Linked DNA regions of Homo sapiens. The protein of the gene in region 1 purifies or fractionates together with the protein of each later gene. This does not show direct contact. Each region holds a gene or a part of one and is shown in the gene's direction. Other genes may lie near its edges.

Region 1 (3,500 bases):
GGATTTTCACAGAACTTTAACGGCCCTGAGCAAACAATCGACTGTAATCAACGTGTAGCTTCCTGTCCCCAAGAACACACCTTACCCCATGGCAGGGCATTGAGTCATGTTCTGTGAGGTGACTCCTAGTGGAGCCATTACCCGGGGATTTTTTTTTTTCATTTCTAAAAATAAAATGTAGAAAAGCATGGGGTGAAGTTTTCTGTTGAAAATTTCATGGTTAGCTTTTGTTTCTGCATGGATTTCAGAGCTTCAGCTTACAGAGGGAGACTGTGTAGACGTCACTGTAGGCAGAGTTTCACTGCCTCAGCGCTTCTCTCGCTGTCTCTCTCTCTGCTTACTACAAACCACTTCTCTGTGATTTCCTGAGTGGTCTTTGAGCCGAAACAGGAAACTTGATTCGAAGACTGTATTTTCTTAGTCGCTCTTCTCTGCCCTTTCCATTTCCTCCTGGCTCCTGAGTGGAGGAGGCAGCATGGAAGAGGGAAGGGTGGGCTGTCAGTGCTTACAGCCTGCACTGGGACTCGAACACAAGAACATGCTCCTCCTTCCTTTCTTTCTCACAGGTCTCTGGGGGTACAGTCAGAGAGCTGGTGGAGGCCCTGAGACAAATGGGCTACACCGAAGCAATTGAAGTGATCCAGGCAGCCTCCAGCCCAGTGAAGACCACCTCTCAGGCCCACTCGCTGCCTCTCTCGCCTGCCTCCACAAGGCAGCAAATAGGTAAAAAAAAAGACAAAAGACAGTGGAGATATTTTCCAGCTCCCCCAGGCTGGTGTCTTCAGCTCTTTTTGGATATGGTGTGGCAGTTTTCTTTCTCGTTTTCTGGATACACTTCCCTGTGTGTCTCTCTACCCCCTGGGCTCACCCTCTGCCTCTCTTGATAGTACCATTCAGATGAGGGGGTCGTACCCTTGGAAAATCACATTGACACATGAACTACTTAGTAAACACTAAATAATACAATAAATACTAAAAACAACATGATGTGGGTGATTAAATTTAACACATGAGAGAAATAATATTTACCTTAAAGAGAGAACCATCTCCTTCTTCCTTTGCCTCCTCTCTCAAGCTTATGACACTGACCTTGTCCCCCACCATATATGGGACTACGTGTCATGCCACCAAAAGTCTCGCAACCATATGAAATGGACTCTCAACCCAGCCCAGTAATCCTATATTTCCTACAATTTTATTCTCCCACTCTGTAAATGATGATTCCATGCTTTCTATTTCTAAACCCCCAACACTCCTTCCCTCCCCTTACTCATGCAACACCCTTGCTTCACACTCTGTTGAAAACAGAAGAAACCAGAACCCTCTCACCTTTGCACCAAGTGCCAGCCCACCTGTGCCTGTGCCCACATTGGCAGCCTTCCATCCGGACTTGGTGGGTTAAATTTCTTTGCCCAGCTGAGGAGCCACCTCTCCCCTGAGTCTAACCCCCTCACCTTTACTAGGTTGTTGTTCCTGTTAATTCTTACCTCTCTCTCCTGTACTAGCCGTTCCTCCTCCCCACTCTCCGACTAGGTCACCTAGCAAGCATTTCATGATTTCCTCATCTTTAAAAACAAAACACACCGAAACAATCACCCTCTTGATCCCACATCCCATTTAGCTACAGTCCAATTGCTCTATTCCCATACATAGCAGAGCTCCTTCAAAGAATTTTTTAGAGTTATTCTTTCCAGCTTGCCACCTTCCACCCTCTGCTTGGCCTCCTGCAGTTGGGATCGCATCCCCACCGCTCCACCAGGCCTGCTGTCCTCACAGTGACCGGTCACCTCCACATTGCCAGATCTGGTCACCTCCTTTTCACCTTGACCACTTGCAGAGTGTGTCATGGTTGACGCCTACCTTCAACTTCAGACCGTCTCCATTCCTGGCTCCTCCACAGCACACTCCCCTGGCTGGCTCTTCTACACTCACCTTTTAAAGTCACAGCCCTCCAGGGTCAGTCCTAAACCCTCCCTGCTTGGTACCTCACCCAAGCCCAATACTGGCTACATCTGTCAGAAGCGCTGCCATCTTCCAGGAGATTAAGACAAAACCCAAGAATTCCTCAGGAGTCCTTTCTGCCACTAATCACTTCGTATGCGACGCATCGAGTGTCATCCTGTCTGCAACCACCGCCCCAGGCCAGCCTGCCGTCATTTCCTGCCCAAATTCTTGCACGGCTCCTACTCAGTCCCCTTGTTTCCTTCCTGTCCACCTCCCTTCAGTCCATTCTCTGCCCAACAGACGGTATGATTCTTCTAAAAAATCAGTGACATTGTATTAATTCTGGGTTATGCCCTTCAGTTCATTCAGTCATTCATTCAGCAAATCCTGATCCAGCATACACTGTGTGCCTAGCAGTGTTCGAGGTTTTAAAGATAAAACTGTGTCCCTGCTTTACTCGTTTGCTTTCTTAAACATTGCTGTGGAAGCTCTTCCTCCACACTGCGCCTCCATTCCCAAGTGTTTTCTCTGCTCCCCTGGCTCACTAGTCTGACCAACCTTTTGACTGTTTCTTCCCATTCCCTGGAAAGCTCTTAATTGGCTGGCTCTTTCTTGCCACTCAGTTTCAGCACCCATCTCACCCTGCCAGGGGGCCTTCCCAGGGGAGCAAGGGCAGACGTCATTGTCCGCACTTGAGAAAGGAATAATGTATCCGCCGGAAAACAACCCAGATCTCCTGAGTCACAGCCCAGTGCTCCTTCTGCACAGATATTAAAAAAGAAAAAAAGCAAATACTTAACATTTTTTTAAAAAGTAAATACCTAAGCATTAAGCCCTTAATTTGTAGTTATTTTTAGGATATCGCATAGTTTGTAACCCATAATAGACACCAAATAAAGATTGGTTGATTAAACAAATCAGTCAATACCAAAATGATAGTCGTGCCACTGGCATTAAAGTCTTAATATTCTAATATTGGAATTTGGTACATAAGAAGATAGCATTTTGATTAGTGTATGTTAGACTTCTGTTTCCTTCCTCACTGTATAGGAAATAATTTGTCTTGGTCATATCCCTAAGGACACTTATAAACAAAGGGAATTCAACCTGATTTTCCAGTATAGACTCATTTTCACCAAAATCATTTTACTTTTATTGCTACCAAAAATGTTTTCAAGGCAATGTATGCTGTAATAGCATATGAGGCCCAGAGAGAGATCTCATTTTTAGTTCTTGCTTCTGTCACCAATTTATTTTGCTGAGGTTCAGCAGTTTCCCCAGCTATGAAATAGATAATACAGTGGTTGGAAAACTACACTTGATTTCTAAGGGAAAAAAAGGTCCACTGTGAGTCAAGAGAATTCAGAAAGGATTCTCATAAACACAAGACTAGATTGCAGGAAGATGTGAAAGCATTTGGCTAATTCTGACATTTGGCTAATAACATCCTCACAGTATGTCCCAAGTATCTTCTGCCCTTCCCACCACGGTGAGCAGTCATGACAGTGAGGGTGGCATAGGTGGGATGTGTGGCTGGCAGAAGCCAGTGGGCAAGA
Region 2 (3,500 bases), on another chromosome or scaffold:
CATATAGTTAGTAGGTGATGGATTCCAGGTGTGAACTTGGGTCTTACTGCCTTGAAATCCTTTGTTCCATGATACCATACTGCCTCAGAAGTAGAGTTCTTCATTAATTTCATGTGGTTTGTTAATGGGAGGGTAGGAACTCGAATTTCACACACTTCTCCCAGTCCTGTAATTCCAGTGTTATCCGCCATTCTTAGTAAGAGGTGTGAGGTCTTGGAGTTAGGTAAGAGGGCAGCCCATCTGACCTATTTGTAAAGGTCGATTGTGTCTTTTAAGTGTCCCTTGTTCCTCAAAGGCTGGAAGAAAGAAACGATTTCCTTGTTCCATCTTTTGCTGCCAGGAATGAATAAAGCAGAGGAGTTTGTGCTTCTAATCTACTTCTTCACAAAGGAAAAGATTTGTCATGCTTCTTTGGAAATGGGACTGAATTCTGATGTATTAGCTTTTACATATGAAAATTTGTATTTTAATTCCTTGAGTTTGAATAACAGATAATATGGGAAATCTAATATCATACAGGCTCAGAATATCTGCTCTGTTCAGTATCAAACTTATCCTTTGCAAACTCTCTTCTTCCTGTTGGTTTGTTTTTAATTTTGACCAATAATACCACTGGTTCTTGGCCCCCATGTCCAGCCCAGCTAGTCAGGAAATCCAGTCATTTCCACCTTTTTAGTATTGTATGTCTCATCTTTAGTATATCGTCTGTGCTATAAGTCTTATACCACTATCCTGTTTAAAATTCTTCTGGAAAGCCAAGTAAACTAGAAAGGATAAAGTTGAAACTTGTTAGCATGGCACATGTGGTCCTTCCTGATGTGGCCGTAGCCTGCCTTTTCAGACCCATCTCTTTCTACTTCCTACTCAAGTGAATTTGATTCCTGCTTCAAGCAACAGGAACAGCTCCTTTTTCTTAACCTCTGCATTTACTTTTTCCTGTATCTGGATTTTTCTTTTTCCTGGAAAATTTTTATTTGTTCTTTAGGGTTCAACTCAAGGGAATCACTTGTATGAAACTTTTCCTTTTGTCTTCAGGTAGAGGTAAGCATACATTGCTCTGTAATTCCATCATGCCTTTATTTATTCACACTGTGAGAGATGGTATTGTGCAGGTATCTTCTCAGTTTATCTTTTTGTTTCTGAGACGGAGTCTCACTCTGTCGCCCAGGCTGGAGTGCAGTGGCACGATCTTGGCTCACTGTAATCTCCACCTTCCAGGTTCAAACCATTCTCCTGCCTCAGCCTCCCGAGTAGCTGGGATTACAGGTGTGTGCCACCACGCCCGGCTAATTTTTGTATTTTTAGTCGAGATGGGGTTTCACCATGTTGGCCAGGCTGGTCTTGAACTCCTGACCTCAAGTGATCTACCTGCCTCGGCCTCCCAAAGTTCTGGGATTACAGGTGTGAGCCACTGTGCCTGGCCACTTTCTGAATTTATCTTTAGGCTATTTTATTAACAGTTGATTTCTTGATAACTAGGACTGTTTACTTCCAGGATTAGATGGCATTTTATTCATTTAAACTTGTCAAGCAAGAATAACCTCTTTGTTCTTTTTGTTTCCCTAGTATCGGTTTTATGGAGAACCTGTAATAAAAGCATGTATTGAAAATGGAGCCAGTTGTATCGACATCAGTGGAGAACCTCAGGTATAAAAAATAAAAAGGAAAAACGTAGAATTAACACATAAATTTCGGTTTAATGAAGTGGAAATATTTAGTGTAATTTTGCAGACATATTTAGAAGCCGACAACTCCTTTCTAGCATTCAGATATGGTATTCGTGTGGTATTCCATTGATAGCTCAAAGGAGAGCGCTGATGGTAAGGTCTTAGCTTCAGTTTTCTGAATTTTTTCCCTCCCTACAACATCATTTCTTATAGGTCTGTGCTTATTATAGCTACTTCATGCTTTAAACTGAATCAATTAAAATAGCGGACTGTGCATAATTCTTAGAATCTCAATTCTGTCATGTTTTCATTTTGAATTCCCTTTTAAAAATCAGGTACCTTTAGGCCGGGCACGGTGGCTCACACCTGCACTCCCAGCACTTTGGGAGGCCAAGGCGGGCAGATCATGAGGTCAGGAGATCGAGACCATCCTGGCCAACACGGTGAAACCCCATGTCTACTAAAAATACAAAAAGTGAGCCGGGCATGGTGGCGGGCACCTGTCATCCCAGCTTCTTGGGAGGCTGAGGTGGGAGAATGGGGTGAACCTAGGAGGTGGAGCTTGCAGTGAGCCGAGATCACTCCACTGCACTCCAGCCTGCGCCACAGAGCGAGAGCGAGACTCTGTCTCAAAAAAAAAAAGAAAATTCAGTTACCTTTATAACATTACAGAAAAATAAAGGTAAAATTCACTAGTGTAAAATCAACCTAAACATTTTAAATGTTCACATTTATTGAATGCTTACCATATGCCCAACATTGTGCTAAGTGTTTTATGTAACTTTTTAAAAATATACCTATAGGGTAGTTATCTTCCTCCATTTTTTGTAGATGAGGAAATTAAAGCTTAGGAAGCTTAAGTAACTCACTCAGTAATGCACCTAGTAATGCACCTAGTAATGCACCTAGTAAGTAGAAGAACTAGGTCTTCAATTGAGGTTTGCCTGACCACAGGAAGTTATGTGTTAACAGGCATTAAGCTCTACTACAGCCTTTAAAATGGTAACCTCATGTGTCTCTGTAGTAACTACTGATTATCATCATCAGCATGCCAATATGATATTAATATGCATTTGCAGTTTATCAATTGGTAAAATACTGGAAAATACTGAGACAGTGTAAATTACAAAAATTGATTCAAAAAGGAGGAAACAAATTAAAAAAAAAAAAAAGCCCAGGCGAGGTGGCTCACGCCTGTTACCCCAGCACTTTGGGAGGCTAGGTGGGAGGATGACTTGAGCTGGTGAGTTAACAAATTAGCCAGGAGTTGGTAGCACACACCTGTGGTCCCACCTACTCAGGAGAATGAGACAGGAATATCACTTGAGCCTGGGAGGTCAAGGCTGCAATGAGCTATGATCATGCCACTGCACTCCAGCCTGGGCAACATAGTGAGACCCTGTCTCCAAAAAACAAAAACAAAAAACAATTCCCATGTTATTTTAAATAACCCAGAACATAGAAAATGGTGAAAAGCTTTTAAGTCATCTAGAAACTATCATAAAAGTAGTATCGAACCCCCCCCTTTTTTTTTGATACAGGGTCTCTCTCTCTCACCCAGGCTGGAGTGCAGTGCTACGATCTTGGCTCACTGTAACCTCTGCCACCTGGGTTCAAGCGATTCTCCTGCCTCAACCTCCTGAGTAGCTGGGGGTACAGGTGCACACCACCACACCTGACTAATTTTTGTATTTTTAGTAGTGACAGGGTTTCACCGTGTTGGCCAGCTTGGTCTTGAACTCCTGGCCTCAAGTGATCCACCTGCATCGGCCTCCCAGAATGCTGGGATTACAGGCATGAGCCACCACGCCCAGCCATAATATCAAAACCTAA
Region 3 (2,582 bases), on another chromosome or scaffold:
GGGAGGCCAAAGTGGGCAGATCACCTGAGGTCAGGAGTTCGAGACCAGCTTGGCCAACATGGTGAAACCCTGTCTCTACTAAAAATACAAAAATTAGCCAGGGCTGGTAGCACGCACCTGTAATCCCAGCTACTCAGGAGGCTGAGGCAGAAGAATCACTTGAACCTGGGAGGCGGAGGTTGCAGTGAGCCACGTTCGCACCATTGCACTCCAGCCTGGGCAACAGAGTGAGACTCTGTCTCTTAGAAAAAAAAAAAAAAGGGAAACAAGGCACAGGTAGTCTTCTCCAAAGAAACGCCAGGATTCTCCAAGGCATTCTGAGTAAAACTCCAAGGGTGAGAACACCTGAATTTACTGTTTAGGTCTGAACGGCTACTTGATGCTGAGTTGCCAGGTAGCTGAGCAAGCTGCAGGAGGTGGGCAGAATGGCACTGGGCCTCAGTCGTGACCATGAGCCAGTCTGATAACTGCCATACATTCAAGGTAGTACATTCAGGCTGTATTTCGGACCTCTGGATCCGTGCAATGATATGTACATATCTACTTTTCTCCTTGTGATAAAATCACACATACTGCTAATGGCACTGTGGTTCCTTGATGACATTCATAACAGAAGGAATGCTGAATTTCAATTAGAGGTTAGTAATAAAGATGCATATTTTTCCCCTGCCTGAGTCCACAGACTCACTGAATGCTATCCACAGATCCCTCTGGGTCTATGGACCCCAGGATAAAACTGCTGTGTTAAACGTTAACTGGACAAAATCCTCTGACTCCACTGAAATTTATATATACAATAATCTGGGATCTTGAATTGCAAAGCACTCAAGTTAAAAAGAAATTTACATTCAAGATGTTATTTGCTTATCTAACAGCCAGGTTTGGTAGTTAATTGTTTCCACCTCATACCTGAGGAAAGTGAGAGTGAGAGGCCTCTCATCACCAAAGGTCACCAAGTCAGAGAGGAGCACAGATGGGGCTTGGTCACAGCTCTGACAACAAGGCCTGACATTGGCTCCTACACGCAAGTGGCCAGGCTGCTGTCTCACCAGGTCTCAGAGTAAACGTGATTGCAGGTCGATTCCTGAAACCTCTGGCTGGTGACTAAGGCAAGCCTGCTCCTCAGCTGGACAGCTGCCCTGGATGAGCTCTCCTTGCCCTGTGGATTCACTTGCATCCCTATCTCCTCCTGAGCTTCTCCACACTGCTAAGGCAGGAGTTTGAGGGCATTGGAAGGGAAAACCTTCTGACCTAGACTTTGGCTCCTGAAATGATACTACAACAGTAGACTCCCCCTTGCCCTAGGCCCACCTCCACCCCCACTCTTCTCCTCCGGCTTTTCCCTCTCCTATTTTTCCCTCCCTTACCCATTCCCCAAAATAACAATGAATTCCCCCTCCCACCTTCTCCTCACCAGGTTAAAACTTACCTCATTAGCAGCATCCCTCTACAAGGTGCATTTAACTATAAGTATACTGCCTGCCTATGTGACGACAATCCAAAAACCTTCTACTGGGACTTTTACACCAACAGTAAGTACAGAAGTTGTCCAAGGAGGGAACTACCCACCAGCCACCAGGGAGGAGAAACTATAAACAGAAACATGGCTGCGAACCGAGCAGGACCAGGACCTCAGGGCAGAAGGACAGAAGGGAGGGAGGGAAGAGCATGGGGAGAGCAGATGGGGAAAGCACCCAGGTTCTAAGACAGAGGCATTGAGTGCAAAAAGTTGATACAGGAGACAAATTTGCAAAGGATTTGGGGAAACTGAACCCCAGGGGGCAGATGCCTGATATGAGTAGAAAAGACAGGACATGGCCGGGGTGTCTGAGAGATGATCTCCGTCCCTGTCTTTTTCAGGAACTGTGCAAATTGCAGCCGTCGTTGATGTTATTCGGGAATTAGGCATCTGCCCTGATGATGCTGCTGTAATCCCCATCAAAAACAACCGGTTTTATACTATTGAAATCCTAAAGGTAGAATAATGGAAGCCCTGTCTGTTTGCCACACCCAGGTGATTTCCTCTAAAGAAACTTGGCTGGAATTTCTGCTGTGGTCTATAAAATAAACTTCTTAACATGCTTCTCCATGTTCTGTTGTATCTCCAAAATCTGCTCCTGAAGAACCCCAGATTACCTGAAATTTCTAGAACATTTGTCTTTCAAAGAACCTTTACTGAGGAGATTGTACGGGTTCTCACTGCCCATTGGTATGAAGAGGGAGAGAAGAAGAAACTGGGAAGAGGAGCTATGCTCACAGAGAGGAAAAGCAGTGGCCCTAAAGTTCACGGCACAGGAGTGGCAGAGCCAGGGCAGGCACCAAGCCTCCCTGTTGCTTGACCTCTCTCCATCCCACTGCCCTCCAGCAACAGCTCAGATCCCAGAAGACAGGAGTCCTGTTGCATGCAGCAGAGTCAGGGATGGAGTCCATGGCCCCCTAAATGAGCAGTAGCATTCTATGCTATTCTGTTGCTTGTTTTCAATGGATTGTGACACTCAGGGATATCAGGGTCCTGTGCAGCTCTGCCTGAGGAGCTCAGGCATAATAGAGGAGTAAAGGGGCAGAGGGAGCCCTGAGGGGCT
Region 4 (3,500 bases), on another chromosome or scaffold:
CAGGCAATTCTCCTGCCTCAGCCTCCCGAGTAGCCTGGATTACAGGCATACACCAACACTCCCGGCTAATTTTTCTACTTCTAGTGGAGACGGGATTTCACCATGTTGGCCAGGCTGGTCTCAAACTCCTGACCTCAGGTGATCCACCTGCCTTGGCCTCCCAAAGTGCTGGGATTGCAGATGTGAGCCACCAGGCCTGGCCTATTTTGAATATTTGAGGTGGGTGAGTGTCAGCCTTTCTAAATTACCTTTGTCCTGAAAATTCATCCTGATACAGCAAACATTTATTTACTTATTAATTTTAATACTTTGATCTGTACATATTACAAGTATGCATATACTTGAAAATAAACCTGGGTTTATTTTCGATCCTTTGCTGCCCTCTGCAGGTCTATGAATATAAATCTTTGGAGCGAGGTAAGTCCCTCTAATATTGCAAATCATAAGGTGCTTTTAACGTTACAAGCCAATACCATAGGTTATGTAATAATTTTTATCATGAAACCTATATTTGGTTTTCTACTAAAATTTTGCTGGCAGAGTTAATGTTGAAAAATAATAGTTATGTGTGTCTTTTAGTGTTTGTGAATCCAATTGATAAGAATCCAATGGGAGGAGGGAGAGGATCAGGAAGAATAGCTAATGGATGCTGGGCTTAATACCTGGGTGATGGGATGATCTGTGCAGCCGACCACCATGGCACACGTTTACCGATGTAACAAACCTGCACATCCTGCACATGTACCCCTGAACTTAAAATAAAAGTTGGAAATTAAAAAAAAAAGAATCCATGAGAATAGACACTTTAATCTTTAGACCCCTTTTGTTTTAGTCTCATTAAGATGAATGGAAGTTGTTATTAAATATCTAAAAAATGTAAGTTATTTAGCAGTTCAGGATATTTTACTTTATATTTCAGTAAAACTTAATATAAAATGAGGAAACCAGTTCAGTGTCAACAAGACCAAAAGCAATATAATGAGGAATAATATTGGTCAATAATTCCTATAAGCTCTTTTCTATTTATAACAGTTCATTCAGAGTGATGTTTATATATCAATTTATAAATCAGTTTAGAGTCTTTCTGTGTGACATTTCACAAAACATTGCAGTTTTCCTTCAACATGGATTTGTTTTTGTTTTTAAAAGACAAACCTATTATTTAAAAACAAAACAATCTCCTTGGCGGGTGGGGGTGGTTTTGAATTACTGTGAAATAGAATAGTACCTTACTGGGGAGAGGTTTTATTATTTCAAGAATTCAATTTCAGATTGTGTTTGTTCTTGTTTGCTTCTCTTGCTGCAATGCACGAATTTTCTGTCTTACCAGATAACAGAATTGTTGTACAAGGATGGACGTTATTGCCAGGAGCCTCGAGGACCGACGGGTAGCGTTTCAATTTCGATGATTGTAACTTATCCACAAATCCATTTTTCTGTGTAATGATGGGTTAGGAGGATTACAGCAGTAAATACTTTATTTTTTAAAGTGGAATTTGAAAACATTTGGTTATAAATCTTTATATTGATTACAACATTTTGAGATCTAAAGTGTTTGATTTTGTTACAATTATTTTTTCTAAAGACAGGGTTGGGAGGCTTTTTCTTTTCAGATATTGGGGAAATGTTTCTTCTAACATCTATGGAAATAGGCTTAAAAATCAGTGATTCTTAGTATTTATGTGCTTTTAATGTTTTGCAGGTGTAGTTAATTTTAAACATAAAATGTAGCGAAGGTTCTTGTGGATTTCCGCTTAAATGTAATTTATTGCCCCAAATACATTGTTTTGACATTTAATGATTTTCATTTTTCATATAATGAAGCTAGACTATATAGTTTTCTGTAAGATGGTACCCCTCTTGAAAGTTTACATTTCTATCCTAGGTATTACTGTAACATGGCCCTATACATTTTATGCTTGAATGCAAAGGAAAATTACTGTTGTTACAAAACATCTTTGTTAATCTTGGTTTTTCATTGGCTAATAGGCAGCTCTCCACAGGATTACTGTATCTGCTTATTAAAATTGTTTAACTTTCTTTACTCAACATTTAACAATCCTTTCTAATTTTATGTGCTTCCCTAAATATTGTCCACAAAAAAAAAACAGTATAGAAATGTGTACAAGACATTTATTTATTCTTATTACGTGTGATTTGGACAGGAAAGGGGTAAGGCCTTGGGCAGGACCACTTCTGTCACAGAGTGGTGGAAAAAAAATAGATTGAAGTAAGATTCAGTACTGAAAAGCTGTCACTCGGTCTGAAAATAATTAATATTCCTTTCACTCACCAGTTAGATATGTGCTCCCAAACCACATAATCTCTATGCCTCAGTGATCATTGTTGCCATTTCAGAGCCTCTCATCAGGGTGACATCTCACACCAAAATGATTTCTTATAAATTAATCTTGATAACATGACAGTCTCGGTAATTTTAGTGGAATGCTTTCTCTTGTTTTTTTCCACAGAAGCTGTTGGCTATTTTCTTTATAACTTGATTGACAGCATGAGTGACTCAGAGGTACAGGCCAAGGAGGAGCATTTGAGACAATACTTCCATCAGCTGGAGAAGATGGTACCATTTCGTTTTTTGCTATATAATGCCTGTCCTGCCTGACATGTATCTATTAGATTTGAAATTGCTGCTTTTAAGTACAACCAGACCACTTCTCAATGACATGCAAGAGTTGGAGACTTAAATTATGTCTGAGATAATTTCTGTTAGACAAATTTCAGTTTGGTTGTCTAAAACTCAGGTTTTTTCCCCCCTCCCTTCCCTTCTCACAGAATGTAAAAATTCCTGAAAATATCTACAGAGGCATTCGTAATCTCCTGGAAAGCTACCATGTTCCTGAATTGATTAAGGTGTGTGTGAAATAGCAATCAACTGGATAAAATGCTTAACTTACATATAACAGCATGTTAAAATTTTATTTAAATATGATGCTTTTGGTCAGAAAAAAAATTTGTTTCAATGACAGCCATTAAAACGAAGCTTTTCATTGATTGTTCATAAATACTATTTATATATTCATAAATATATTTATAACGTTAATTACATTGATTAATAAAGTATGAAGAGAATGTCTAAAATTTTGGAAAGATGAAAAGTAGTAATATGAGGTGAGACTTACAAATTTGCTTTTGATGTTTGCTGATGTATTTTTACGTGTGTTTTCTAATTCTGGGCTAATTTAAATTTCAATTTTAGGATGCTCACTTGTTGGTTGAGAGTAAGAATTTAGACTTTCAAAAAGTAAGTAGGATTTTGACTAGATTCTACATGCTATAATACCCATATTTAATGAGTATTCTGGATTGTGTACTTATAAAACCAGTGATTCCTCACATTTTTATCATCTTGTATACCTCTAAGAAGTTGGTAAAACCTGTTCCCCACCTCAGAAAAATCAACATATCTAAGAAATTTGCATATAATCTCAGAAGGTTTGTAAATCCCTGGAGTCCATCCATGGATTCCCCAATTAATATCCCTG
Region 5 (3,500 bases), on another chromosome or scaffold:
GCCATTTAAAATATAAAACAGCACTTAGAATTTAAATAACTTCTTATACTTTTGAAATACACATTGTCTACGGCCTCATTAGGATACAACAATCCTGATTTTCTGAGCAATTGGAGGTAAGTGGCAGTGCCATTTTGACAGGAAAAAAGCATGCTTTGAGAACAAGAAGTCAGAGAATTCTTGACTTGGAAATGCCTTCTTCCACATAGTTCAGAAAACCTTTTCATACATTTTGATGATAGCTGCTTGAACTTGAGGTGACCATCTCCAGTGACAAAGTGTTTACCTTTAGAACTGCCCGCTGCTTTGACAGTTTTCACTGTCAGGAGATTATCTTTGGAAACAAACCAGCTTTTCTGGGGTCTGGTTCTAGAGCACGCATCCTCAGTGGGTGTAAACATTGACTTGGGGGCTTACTCTTTATGAATAAAGCATAGCTATACATATGTATATGCATTATATATGTATATCTGTGGTATTAAAATTTCATTGGGGGAGGTGATTAGAAAAATGTCCAGAAAGACTTCTAGGGAGGGTGGGTGAAAATGAAAAAAATAAAAAAGGTGATAAACACTGTTCTAGAGCAAGAGGGAATAGGCTACTGGTCCTCTGTGTAGCACATTCAGTGTTTACTGACAGCTCTCCTTTCCTGTCTCCCTTTGGTCTTTCCATTGCTAGGCTAAATAGCATAGCCACATAATAGCTGGCCACCCTCCCAAATAATGCCACATAAAATTGTTAAGTGAATACTTATCATCTTGATATAAGAAGGTAAATGTTGTAAGAAACCAAGTATGTGCAGTTTGTCATATCCACTCAGAAATCCAAATCAGTTGTCTATGATTTTGTTGTGTTGCAGATTTTCTGGTCTGACTCTGGAGAGCTAGTCTGTATTGCTACTGAGGAATCATTTTTTATCCTTAAGTATCTGTCAGAAAAAGTCTTGGCTGCACAGGAAACACATGAGGGAGTTACTGAAGATGGCATTGAAGATGCCTTTGAGGTAATTGCATCAGCACAACTTTCGCTTTCAGCTTTGTTTTTAAATGATTTATATTCTTACAACAGACTTTACTGATTTTAACATTTCGTTATAAATTAGGTGTAGGGAGACAGCATTTAAGGATTTCTGGTGAAATGTGAAAAATTAAAATCGTAACTCATAGATCAAAATTTAAAATAAATATGTTTAAAAGAAATTTGTACTTTGATTTTAAGAATTCTTTAGACTTACTTTGATATCTTTCAGTAAAGAAATTATAGTTGTTTTGGTCCTAAGACTATTTAGTCAGTGATTTAAATAAGCTCCCAAATGGTAAATCATTTATTGTGCAGATGTCCTAGATTTTGTGAAATACTTAATATTTCATTGTCATGTTATGAAGGGTCTAAGTTTAGATCAGTATTCTTTTATATCATGATTTTGACCCAACAATGAGATTTCACATTACAAATACTAATCTAGGAATCTGTTCTGTGTTTTGTTTTGTTTTTTTTTCTGTTTTGAGCCTAAGGGTTATATTGAGTAGGAATCTGTTCTTAAATGAAGAAAGAAATTCCAGCGGGGTGCAGTGGCTCACACCTATAATCCCAGCACTTTGGGAGGCCGAGGTGGGCAGATCACTTGAGGTCAGGAGTCTAAGACCAGCCTGGCCAGCATGGTGAAACCCTGTCTCTACGAAAAACATAAGAATTAGCCAGGCATGGTGGCGGGCGCCTGTAATCCCAGATACTTGGGAGGCTGAGGCAGGAGAATCACTTGAATCCGGGAGGTAGAAGTTGGCAGTGAGCAGAGGTTACGCCACTGTACTACAGCCTGGGCAACAGAGACTTCATCTCAAAAAAAAAAAAAAATTCCAAGGAAAATTTTTTTTTTCTAGAAATAGGAAGGATTTTACTTTGCATTCCTTATTCTGCCATATCACCCTCAGATATATTCAGCTTTTTATTGAGAGATTTCTGATGTTGGATAAAGTAATTGTCTTTATTTTTCTTTCTGCAGGTTCTTGGTGAGATTCAGGAAATTGTGAAAACAGGGCTTTGGGTAGGCGATTGCTTCATTTACACAAGTTCTGTGAACAGATTAAATTATTATGTTGGAGGAGAAATAGTCACCATTGCCCACTTGGACAGGTACCTGAGTATCATTTTGCATTTGTCCTAAATTTTAAAGTGTGTTTAGAAAAATCTGTTGCTGGCTTGTAGCAATGATAGGCTGATTTTTCAGTGTTATAGTTTTAGTAGGTTGCCTATTGTTAACCAGAATTGTGTCAATCAAATGGGAAGGTTTTGAGCAAGAGGGAGATTGGCGGGGTGTGTGTTTGTGTAATTGCAGATTTGAATTTCTAACTTGGTTTCTGTTTCTTTTATAGGACGATGTATCTCCTAGGCTACATTCCTAAAGACAACAGGCTTTATCTGGGGGATAAAGAATTGAACATCATTAGCTATTCCCTGCTGGTTTCAGTCCTGGAATACCAGACAGCTGTCATGCGGAGGGACTTTAGCATGGCTGATAAGGTCCTTCCTACCATTCCAAAAGAACAGAGGACCAGAGTTGCACACTTTTTGGAAAAGCAGGTAAGAGGTTTTGTTTTTTTCTTTTTGTTTTTTAAAACTTGCAATTTGAAAGCAAATTATTATGGAGTTGAAAAACTTTATTTCTTAATTGCCAACTGATTTCCTGTGGCAATAGAATTTCTCCTGTGAGTTTAAGGCACTTATTACAGCACATGATACACCCTTCTTACACTCTTCCTTCTCCTTTCTCAGTGCCCCCTTTAAATGTTGGAGGTGATTTTCAGTCTTCCTTTTCTGTGCACTTATTTTCCAGTCTCCTGATATTTTCATTTCTACACTGCATTTTTAGCTTTATCCCATCTGCTTTTTAAAAAAAAATGATTAAAATACATATAAAATGTACCATGACATGACTTTTTCTTATGTAATGTTTTTTAAGCAAAGTTACATATGTGCAAAGCATAAAGTAAGTTTTGCAAAGCTTAAGAAAAAAATCAGCCCTCCTTTTTGCTTTCTACTCCCTAGAGGTAATTATTTTATCTAATTCTTTTGGTATTTATTTCCATATCTCTAAATAACTTGAGGTATAGCAGTTTCTTCATTTCTTAGCTTTAGGCATTTCTTGTGACTTCCCCCTCTGTAGAAGATGAGAATTTCGCCTTCTTTCATTCCCCTGCGTCTACCACATACATGCCACTTTCCTATCCTTTATCTCTCAGAATAGTTCTAATTTTGATTGATCACTACTCAAATGTTTACATTATTATGGCTATGTAATCACTGCTCACAGGTGAACATGTAGCATATTATCTAGCTTTCCTTTCCTGCAATTGTTTGTTTTCCCTAGTTTATAATTGTCTTTTTCCCCCCTTTGCTTAATTTTCTATGTACCTGTGGTTAATTCTCCCTGGACTTTGCTGGTTCTCCAGAGTTCCTGAAGATCTCCTTTCAGTTTGCTTAGTCTCCTTCAGACTGCACTG
Region 6 (3,500 bases), on another chromosome or scaffold:
TACTGTTGTCCTTTTGTTCTGGAACTCTCCCTGCTGTCTTCCTGTTTGTTTTCTCCTCTGTAAAATTCTTGTTTTGGTATTCCATGCCTGTTTCTGGCAGTACTCATTTGCTTTTTACCACTTTGGCCTACTGAGAAAGTAAGAGAAAGTTCAGTATAGCCAGGAACTGTCAGAGTTGTTGGAGGATTGACTCATTCTCCTTTGGTTGTAACTTGTTTCTGTTTTTGTTTTTTTGAGAAGGAGTCTCCCTCTGTCGCACAGGCTAAAGTGCAATGGCGCGATCTCGGCTCACTGCAACTCTCGCCTCCCAGGTTCAAGCGATTCTCCTGCCTCAGTCTCCTGAGTAGCTGGGATTACAGGTGTGTGCCACCATGCCCGGCTAATTTTTGTATTTTTAGTAGATACAGGTTTCACCATGTTGGCCAGGCTGGTCTCAAACTGCTGACCTCAAATGATCCACCTGCCTCAGCCTCCCAAAGTGCTGGGATTACAGGCATGAGCCACCACGCCTGGCCAACACTCTATGTAGGATTTTTAAAGAACTAGTTACTTAAAAAATATATCATGAGAGGGAAGACAAATTTATAAATTGAGAGAGGGTTTATAGCTTATGGCTAGCGACACAAGTTTGAAGTCTGACTGCCTGGATTCCAGTCCTGGCCCTTGCCGTTTCCTGCCTGTGCGACCTTGGGCATTTCACTTCATCTTTGTATGTTTCCCTATTTTTTGTTTTTTTTTTTTGAGACAGAGTTTTGCTCTTGTTGCCCAGGCTGGAGTGTAGTGGCGCGCCTGGCTCACCGCAATCTCCGCCTACTGGGTTCAAGCGATTTTCCTGCCTCAGCCTCCTGAGTAGCTGGGATTACAGGTATGTGCCACCACCACGCCTGGCTAATTTTGTATTTTTAGTAGAGACGGGGTTTCTCCATTTTGGTCAGGCTGGTCTCGAACTCCTGACCTCAGGTGATCCACCCGCCTCGGCCTCCCAAAGTGCTGGGATTACAGGTGTGAGCCAACAGTGCCCGGCCTATTTTTTATTTTTATTTTTATTTTTTGAGACAGTGTCTTGCTCTGTTACCCAGGCTGGAATGCAGTGGCATGATCTCAGCTCACTACAACCCCTGCCTCTCGGGTTCGAGTGATTCTTGTGCCTCAGCCTCCCGAGTAGCTGGAATTATAGGCATGCGCCACCACACCTGGCTAATTTTTGTATTTTTAGCAGAGACAGGGTTTCACCATGTTGGCCAGGCTGGTCTCCAACTCTTGACCTCAGATGGTCCGCCCACCTCAGCCTCTCAAAGGCTGGGATTACAGGCCTGAGCCACCACGCCTGGCCCCTATTTTTAAAAATGGAGTTGATAATAGAACATGTTTCGCTTCTAAGAGCTGTTGCAAGGATAGAGTTTAAGTGCTTAGGTTGCTGTCTGGCATGTAGTAGACACTCAAGAAATATTAGTCATAAAAGTACTATTATAAAGACTTTTGGGAAATTGAGGAAGCGAAAATTTTACTAGTAATATCGACTATGACGTTAATCTCCAAGAACTCTGGAGAATATGAATTGCAAGGGCAAGGACTTATTCCTCTGTGGGATTTTCCCCTGTGACTGTTACATTGTTTTTATGTTTTGTTTTGTTGAGATGGAGTCTCCCTCTGTCACCCAGGCTGGAGTGCAGTGGCGGGATCCCAGCTCATTGCAACCTTCACCTCTGCCTCCCGGGTTCAAGTGATTCTCCTGTCTTAGCTTCCCAAGTAGCTGGGACTACAGGCGTGCGCCACCATGCCCAGCTAATTTTTGTATTTTTTAGTAGAGAAGGGGTTTTACTATATGTTGGCCAGGCTGGTCTGGAACCCCTGACCTCAGGTGATCTGCCCATCTCAGCCTCCCAAAGTGCTGGGATTACAGACGTGATCCACCGCGCCTGGCCAGAGCTTGACAGTTGGATTGATGAAACCTGAGAATGTATGCTTTATATGTTGTTCATTTTAATTTGTTATATCTAGAAATTTAGCTCTTACTGTTGACTATAACACATACATGACGTGAGTAGAATTTTATCTAGATTGAGTTTTCAGACCGTAATTGGTTTCAAGAAAATAAATAAGGTATTGGAAGTGAACTAAAATTAGTAACTGGCTTTGGCATTAGACTTTAATGCACTTAAATTACATGATCTCATCTGTGAGATAATTTGACAGAGGAGGACGATGGCATGTATTATGTCCATATGAGGAAAGGGCAGAGAAATAGACCCTGCAAGATTCATTAGTGTTACTCCTTCCTCCTGTTCGTTTTCTTTCTTCGTTTTCCCCCCCGGTAAGCATTAAAAAAAATTTTTTTTGGCTGGGTGTGGTGGCTCACTCCTGTACTCCCAGCACTTTGGGAGGCCATGACTCACTTGAGGTCAGGAGTTTGAGACCAGCCTGGCCAACATGGTGAAACCCCGTCTCTACTAAAAATACAAAAAATTGGCCGGGCACGGTGGCTCACACCTGTAATCCCAGCACTTTGGGAGTCCAAGGCGGGTGGATCACGAGGTCAGGAGATCGAGACCATCATGGCTAACATGGTGAAACCCTGTCTCTACTAAAAATACAAAAAAAAAAAAAAAAAAATTAGCCAGGCGTGATGGCGGGTGCCTGTAGTCCCAGCTACTCAGGAGGCTGAGGCAGGAGAATGGTGTGAAACCGGCAGGCGGAGCTTGCAGTGAGCTGAGATCGCACCACTGCACTCCAGCCTGGGTGACAGTGTGACACTCTGTCTCAAAAAACAAAAACAAATTAGCTAGGCGTGGTGGTGCGCACCTGTAATCCCAGACACTCGGGAGGCTGAGGCAGGAGAATCACTTGAACCCTGGAGGCGGAGGTTGCAGTGAGCCAAGATCACGCCATTCCACTCCAGCCTGGGCCATAGAACAAGACTATGTCTCAAGGAAAACAAACAAACAAAAAAACACATCTCTACTGAAAATACAGAAGTTAGCTGGGAGTGGTGACAGGTGCCTGTAATGCCAGCTGCTTGAGTGGCTGAGGCATGAGAATCACTTGAACCCGGGAGGTGGAGGTTACAGTGTACCGAGATCTTGCCACTGCTCTCCAGCCTAGGCGACAGAGCAAGACACCATCTCAAAAAAAAGAAAATCCTGTAAGATGAATTTGTTCCTTTATGAAGAATAAATTTGTGTCTGCCATTTACACCGTGAATGCCTTTCTTTGGAGTGGTTCCTTGTAGTGTTTTTTGTTGTTGTCGTTGTTGTTAAATTGTGGTAACATATACTTAACACAAAAATTACCATTTTAACCTTTTTTTGTGGGGGGAGGGACGGGATGTCACTCTGTTGCCCAGGCTGGAGTGCAGTGGTATGCTTTTGGCTCACTGTAACCTTCGTGTCCTAGGGTCAAGACATCCTCCCACCTCAGTCTCCCGAGTAGCTGGGACTACAGGTGCATGCCACCACGTCTGGCTTGATTTTTTTATTTTTTGTGGAGATGGGGGTCTCACT
Region 7 (3,500 bases), on another chromosome or scaffold:
CCTTGGCCTCCCAAAGTGCTGGGATTACAGGCGTGAGCCACCACGCCCAGCCTTTTAATTATCATTCTAAGACAGGGTCTCTGTCGCCCAGGCTGGAGTGCAGGGGCGATCACAGCTCACTGTTGCCTCGACCTCTGGAGCTCAAGCAATCCTCCTGCCTCAGCCGCCTGAGTAGCTGGGACTGCAGGGGCACAGTGGAATACCTGTCTAATTTTTTTGTAATTTTAGTAGAGATGGAGTTTCCTCACGTTGCCCAGACTGGGCTCAAACTTCTGAGCTAAAGAGATTTGCCTCCCTTGACGTTCTGAAGTGCTGGGATTACAGATGTGAGCCCCCGTGCCCGGTCAGGCTTTCTTTTCTTTTTCTTTTTTTTTTTTTTAAGGCAGAATTTTACTCTGTTGCCCACGCTGGAGTGCAGCGGTGCAATTTCAGCTCACTACAACCTCTGCCTCCCAGGTTTCAGTGATTCTCGTGCCTCAGCCTCCCACGTAGCTGGGACTACAGGTGCGCCACCACGCCTGGCTAATTTTTGTATTTTTAGTAGAGACGGGGTCTCACCATGTTGGCCAGGATGGTCTCAAACTCCTTACCTCGTGTGATCTGCCCGCCTCAGCCTCCCAAAATCCAGGTTACATTCGTGAGCCACCGCCCCTGGCCCTGGTCAGGCTTTTGAGAGTAGATCCATGAAAGTGTCGCCATGTCCCTGCTCCCTGCAGGAGGGAGGCCTGTGGGACTTTCTGCTGTGGCTGTTTACAAGGCTTTGCTCCTGGTGCCTAAGGCTGGAACCTTCTCTCTGCAGGAGAAGATAAGCGAGGACCTCAGGGCCACACTGAACGCCTTCCTGTACCGCACGGGCCAGCACAGCAACAAGTGAGGGAGCCCCTCGGGTCCTGGGCCCCCGGGCAGGGCTGTGCAGCCGTCGCCCTTGGTTCCCACCGAGGGACCTGAGGGGCCCTGGCTCACAGTGCTGGGCAGCTGCCGTGGCCTCAACATGCCCACCTCGGATGTCCCCTGGGAACGGCCCAGCTCGGGACAGCACGGGGTGTCACTGAGGAACATGCGGGGGCCTCCCGGGCAGAGCTGGGGTCAGTCCTGTCCTCACGGCCCTGTGCGCCGCCGCCCCAGCTTGCAGGTCCCTCTGCCCCTAGGTTTCTGCGGTCCTGTGCCTGCAAGGGAGGTGGTCTCATCGTGTGAGGCTCTGCTGGGTCTCCCTTGGAGGGTGTGTGTGCCCTGGGGTGGGAGATGGAGACAAGTTTGCTCCCACGGGAAGTTGGACACCAGCAGGTCCTGTGTGTCGGGGCGGAACCTGGGACCTTGGTCCCCCGCCCGGATGCTGGCCAAGGGTGCACCCTCCAGGCTTGGGGCCCACCCGACTTTGTGTGGCCTCTGTGGGCTGCCGCCCAGAGGTCCCCCATAGGGTGACCGCCCCATGGCCAGGCTCCCTAGTCCCTCCCAAGTCCCCTAATTTTGAGTTTTCTTGGTCTCCTGGGCCCCTCCAGCCCCAGTCACGTGTCACACGGAGGATCAAGTCCTGCTGGTCGGCCGTGGCTGACTCCTCAGGCACGTTGGGCTCCCAGGTCAGCTGCTGCCGGTGGATGCTCCCTGGAGCCCTGACTCGGGTCCTTCCCAGAGAGGCAAGGCTGGGGCCCTGCTGAGCCTCCAGTGAACCCGGGCCCCTGAGGTCCTGCTCCTGGCACGTGTGGGCGACTTCTCGACATGGACTCCGGGTCCCGAATCCCTGCTCCCAGCACAGCAGGGGTCAGGCAGCAGGAGAGAGTGGTGTTCCCGGCACTGCCTATCAGGCTGGGCGAGGGTCAGCGGGAAAGCACTATATGGAGGGAGAACAGAGGCCCAGGAAGCCAGGCCGGGGGACAGCTGGGTGCAGTGGGGCAGGTGGCCGACCAGGGCTGTGCCCGTGTCCTCGTGTTTCCCGCCACTTTAGGTTCTCCCTGTGGGGGCTGAGGAGGCCCCGTTCCCCTTGGTGCAGCTCGGCCGGCAGCCCCAGCATCCTCATCCTCATCCCCGCCCCGCAGGTTCATGCTGGTCCTGGCCAGCAACCAACCAGAGCAGTTCGACTGGGCCATCAATGACCGCATCAATGAGATGGTCCACTTCGACCTGCCAGGGCAGGAGGAACGGGAGCGCCTGGTGAGAATGTATTTTGACAAGTATGTTCTTAAGCCGGCCACAGAAGGAAAGCAGTAAGTGTCCCGCCCCACCAGCCCCCGTCCAGGGGCCCTCGCTCAGGGTCCACCCCGACCCACAGTCCACCATCACTTACAAACCTTTAACATTCCTTTTTTTTTTTTTTTTTTGAGACAAAGTCTCATTCTTGTCGCCCAGGCTGGAGTGCAGTGACACGATCTCAGCTGACTGCAACCTCTGCCTCCCGGGTTCAAACAATCCTCTTGCCTCAGCCTCCTGAGTAGCTGAGATTACAGGCGCCCACCACCATGCCTGGCTAATTTTTTTTTAATTTTTAGTAGAAATGGGGTTTTACCATGTTGGCCAGGTTCGTCTCAAACTCCTGACCTCAAGTGATTCACTCTCCTCAGCCTCCCAAAGTGCAGGGATTACAGATGTGAGCCACCGCGCCCGGCGTCTTTTCCATTCCTCTTCACTACGAGGAGGGCTGTGAGGAAATCTTGTGCTCGGCCACCCCCAGGCCCTGGCTGTGAGGGGAGGTGATACGGAGTGTTGCTCTGAGACCCCCGTGTCGGGATTCGAAGGAGTCTCTCCTCATGAGACCCCCGTGTCGGGACTGGAGGGAGAGGCTCCTCATGGTCCACTGCTGGCTTCTGGCCTGGCCTCCCTCCAGCTGCCACACCCGGCCCTGGAGCCTCGTGGTGTGGGGCACGGCTCTTGCTGCTCACGTGCCTTGAGGCTGTCAGGCTCCCTGTTGCTGGCGGTGGGTGCAGCAGGCACGGTGGGCAGAGCCCTCCAGGTGATGAGGGGCCCTGGCACCACACACCGGCTGCCTCGGGAACACTCCAGATGAGCAGAGGCTGCTCCACTTCTTGGCGTCCCCCGGGCCCCGGTTTCTGAGTCCTTCTGTGCACCTGACCCAAATCCCTGCTGTCGCCAGTGATGACAAAAGAGAGCCTGGTTGCCGCTGCCGCCTGCTCCATGCCAGCCCAGCTTTCCGGGCCTCAGTTTCCCTATGCCCTCCCCTTCCCTGGGCTCCCCCACCCCCATGGCTGCTCGTAGCCCTGGCACCATGACTTGGCTTCTGTGGCCTCCAGGCAGACGCTTTTGCTAGAAGTCGGGGCTCCGCCACTGCCAGCATAAAGGCCACCTGCCCTGCGGGTGCTGAGTGAGCAGCTGTGGGCAGGGCTGGTGTGAGGAGTGGTTGGGGCCATCTCCAGGCCCTGCAGCCACTCCCTGCTCAGTCCGGGCCTGGCCTGCAGCAGGGAGGATGTGGAGCTGGGCTGTCAGAAGTAGAGAGCCCCTCCAAAGAGGATGTTTGGCGTGGGTGTCGGCCTCGCTGCCTGTCTTCCGGC

The links.
Region 2: the proteins of NFKB1 (region 1) and SCCPDH purify together in Homo sapiens (affinity purification with mass spectrometry; 2 studies listed by BioGRID and IntAct, with this or other methods). This does not show direct contact.
Region 3: the proteins of NFKB1 (region 1) and PIP purify together in Homo sapiens (co-immunoprecipitation; 2 studies listed by IntAct, with this or other methods). This does not show direct contact.
Region 4: the proteins of NFKB1 (region 1) and LRPPRC purify together in Homo sapiens (affinity purification with mass spectrometry; 3 studies listed by BioGRID and IntAct, with this or other methods). This does not show direct contact.
Region 5: the proteins of NFKB1 (region 1) and COPB2 purify together in Homo sapiens (affinity purification with mass spectrometry; 5 studies listed by BioGRID and IntAct, with this or other methods). This does not show direct contact.
Region 6: the proteins of NFKB1 (region 1) and GTF2I purify together in Homo sapiens (affinity purification with mass spectrometry; 2 studies listed by BioGRID, with this or other methods). This does not show direct contact.
Region 7: the proteins of NFKB1 (region 1) and ATAD3A purify together in Homo sapiens (affinity purification with mass spectrometry; 2 studies listed by BioGRID and IntAct, with this or other methods). This does not show direct contact.

The regions. Positions count from the first base shown.
Region 1 is NC_000004.12:102,612,859-102,616,358, forward strand, and holds part of NFKB1 (nuclear factor NF-kappa-B p105 subunit), read left to right. Parts: intron 1-566; coding exon 567-723; intron 724-1,029; exon of another isoform or gene 1,030-2,113; intron 2,114-3,500.
Region 2 is NC_000001.11:246,734,409-246,737,908, forward strand, and holds part of SCCPDH (saccharopine dehydrogenase-like oxidoreductase), read left to right. Parts: intron 1-1,566; coding exon 1,567-1,647; intron 1,648-3,500.
Region 3 is NC_000007.14:143,137,658-143,140,239, forward strand, and holds the end of PIP (prolactin-inducible protein precursor), read left to right. Parts: intron 1-1,417; coding exon 1,418-1,532; intron 1,533-1,860; coding exon 1,861-1,985; 3' UTR 1,986-2,082; downstream 2,083-2,582.
Region 4 is NC_000002.12:43,947,490-43,950,989, reverse strand, and holds part of LRPPRC (leucine-rich PPR motif-containing protein, mitochondrial precursor), read left to right. Parts: intron 1-389; coding exon 390-417; intron 418-1,330; coding exon 1,331-1,388; intron 1,389-2,471; coding exon 2,472-2,578; intron 2,579-2,790; coding exon 2,791-2,868; intron 2,869-3,214; coding exon 3,215-3,259; intron 3,260-3,500. UniProt on the Homo sapiens protein: May play a role in RNA metabolism in both nuclei and mitochondria. In the nucleus binds to HNRPA1-associated poly(A) mRNAs and is part of nmRNP complexes at late stages of mRNA maturation which are possibly associated with nuclear mRNA export.
Region 5 is NC_000003.12:139,365,648-139,369,147, reverse strand, and holds part of COPB2 (coatomer subunit beta'), read left to right. Parts: intron 1-859; coding exon 860-1,003; intron 1,004-2,002; coding exon 2,003-2,133; intron 2,134-2,372; coding exon 2,373-2,580; intron 2,581-3,500. UniProt on the Homo sapiens protein: The coatomer is a cytosolic protein complex that binds to dilysine motifs and reversibly associates with Golgi non-clathrin-coated vesicles, which further mediate biosynthetic protein transport from the ER, via the Golgi up to the trans Golgi network.
Region 6 is NC_000007.14:74,664,218-74,667,717, forward strand, and holds part of GTF2I (general transcription factor II-I), read left to right. Parts: intron 1-3,500. UniProt on the Homo sapiens protein: Interacts with the basal transcription machinery by coordinating the formation of a multiprotein complex at the C-FOS promoter, and linking specific signal responsive activator complexes.
Region 7 is NC_000001.11:1,525,662-1,529,161, forward strand, and holds part of ATAD3A (ATPase family AAA domain-containing protein 3A), read left to right. Parts: intron 1-799; coding exon 800-870; intron 871-1,499; coding exon of another isoform or gene 1,500-1,614; exon of another isoform or gene 1,615-2,021; intron 2,022-2,033; coding exon 2,034-2,201; intron 2,202-3,500. UniProt on the Homo sapiens protein: Essential for mitochondrial network organization, mitochondrial metabolism and cell growth at organism and cellular level. May play an important role in mitochondrial protein synthesis. May also participate in mitochondrial DNA replication.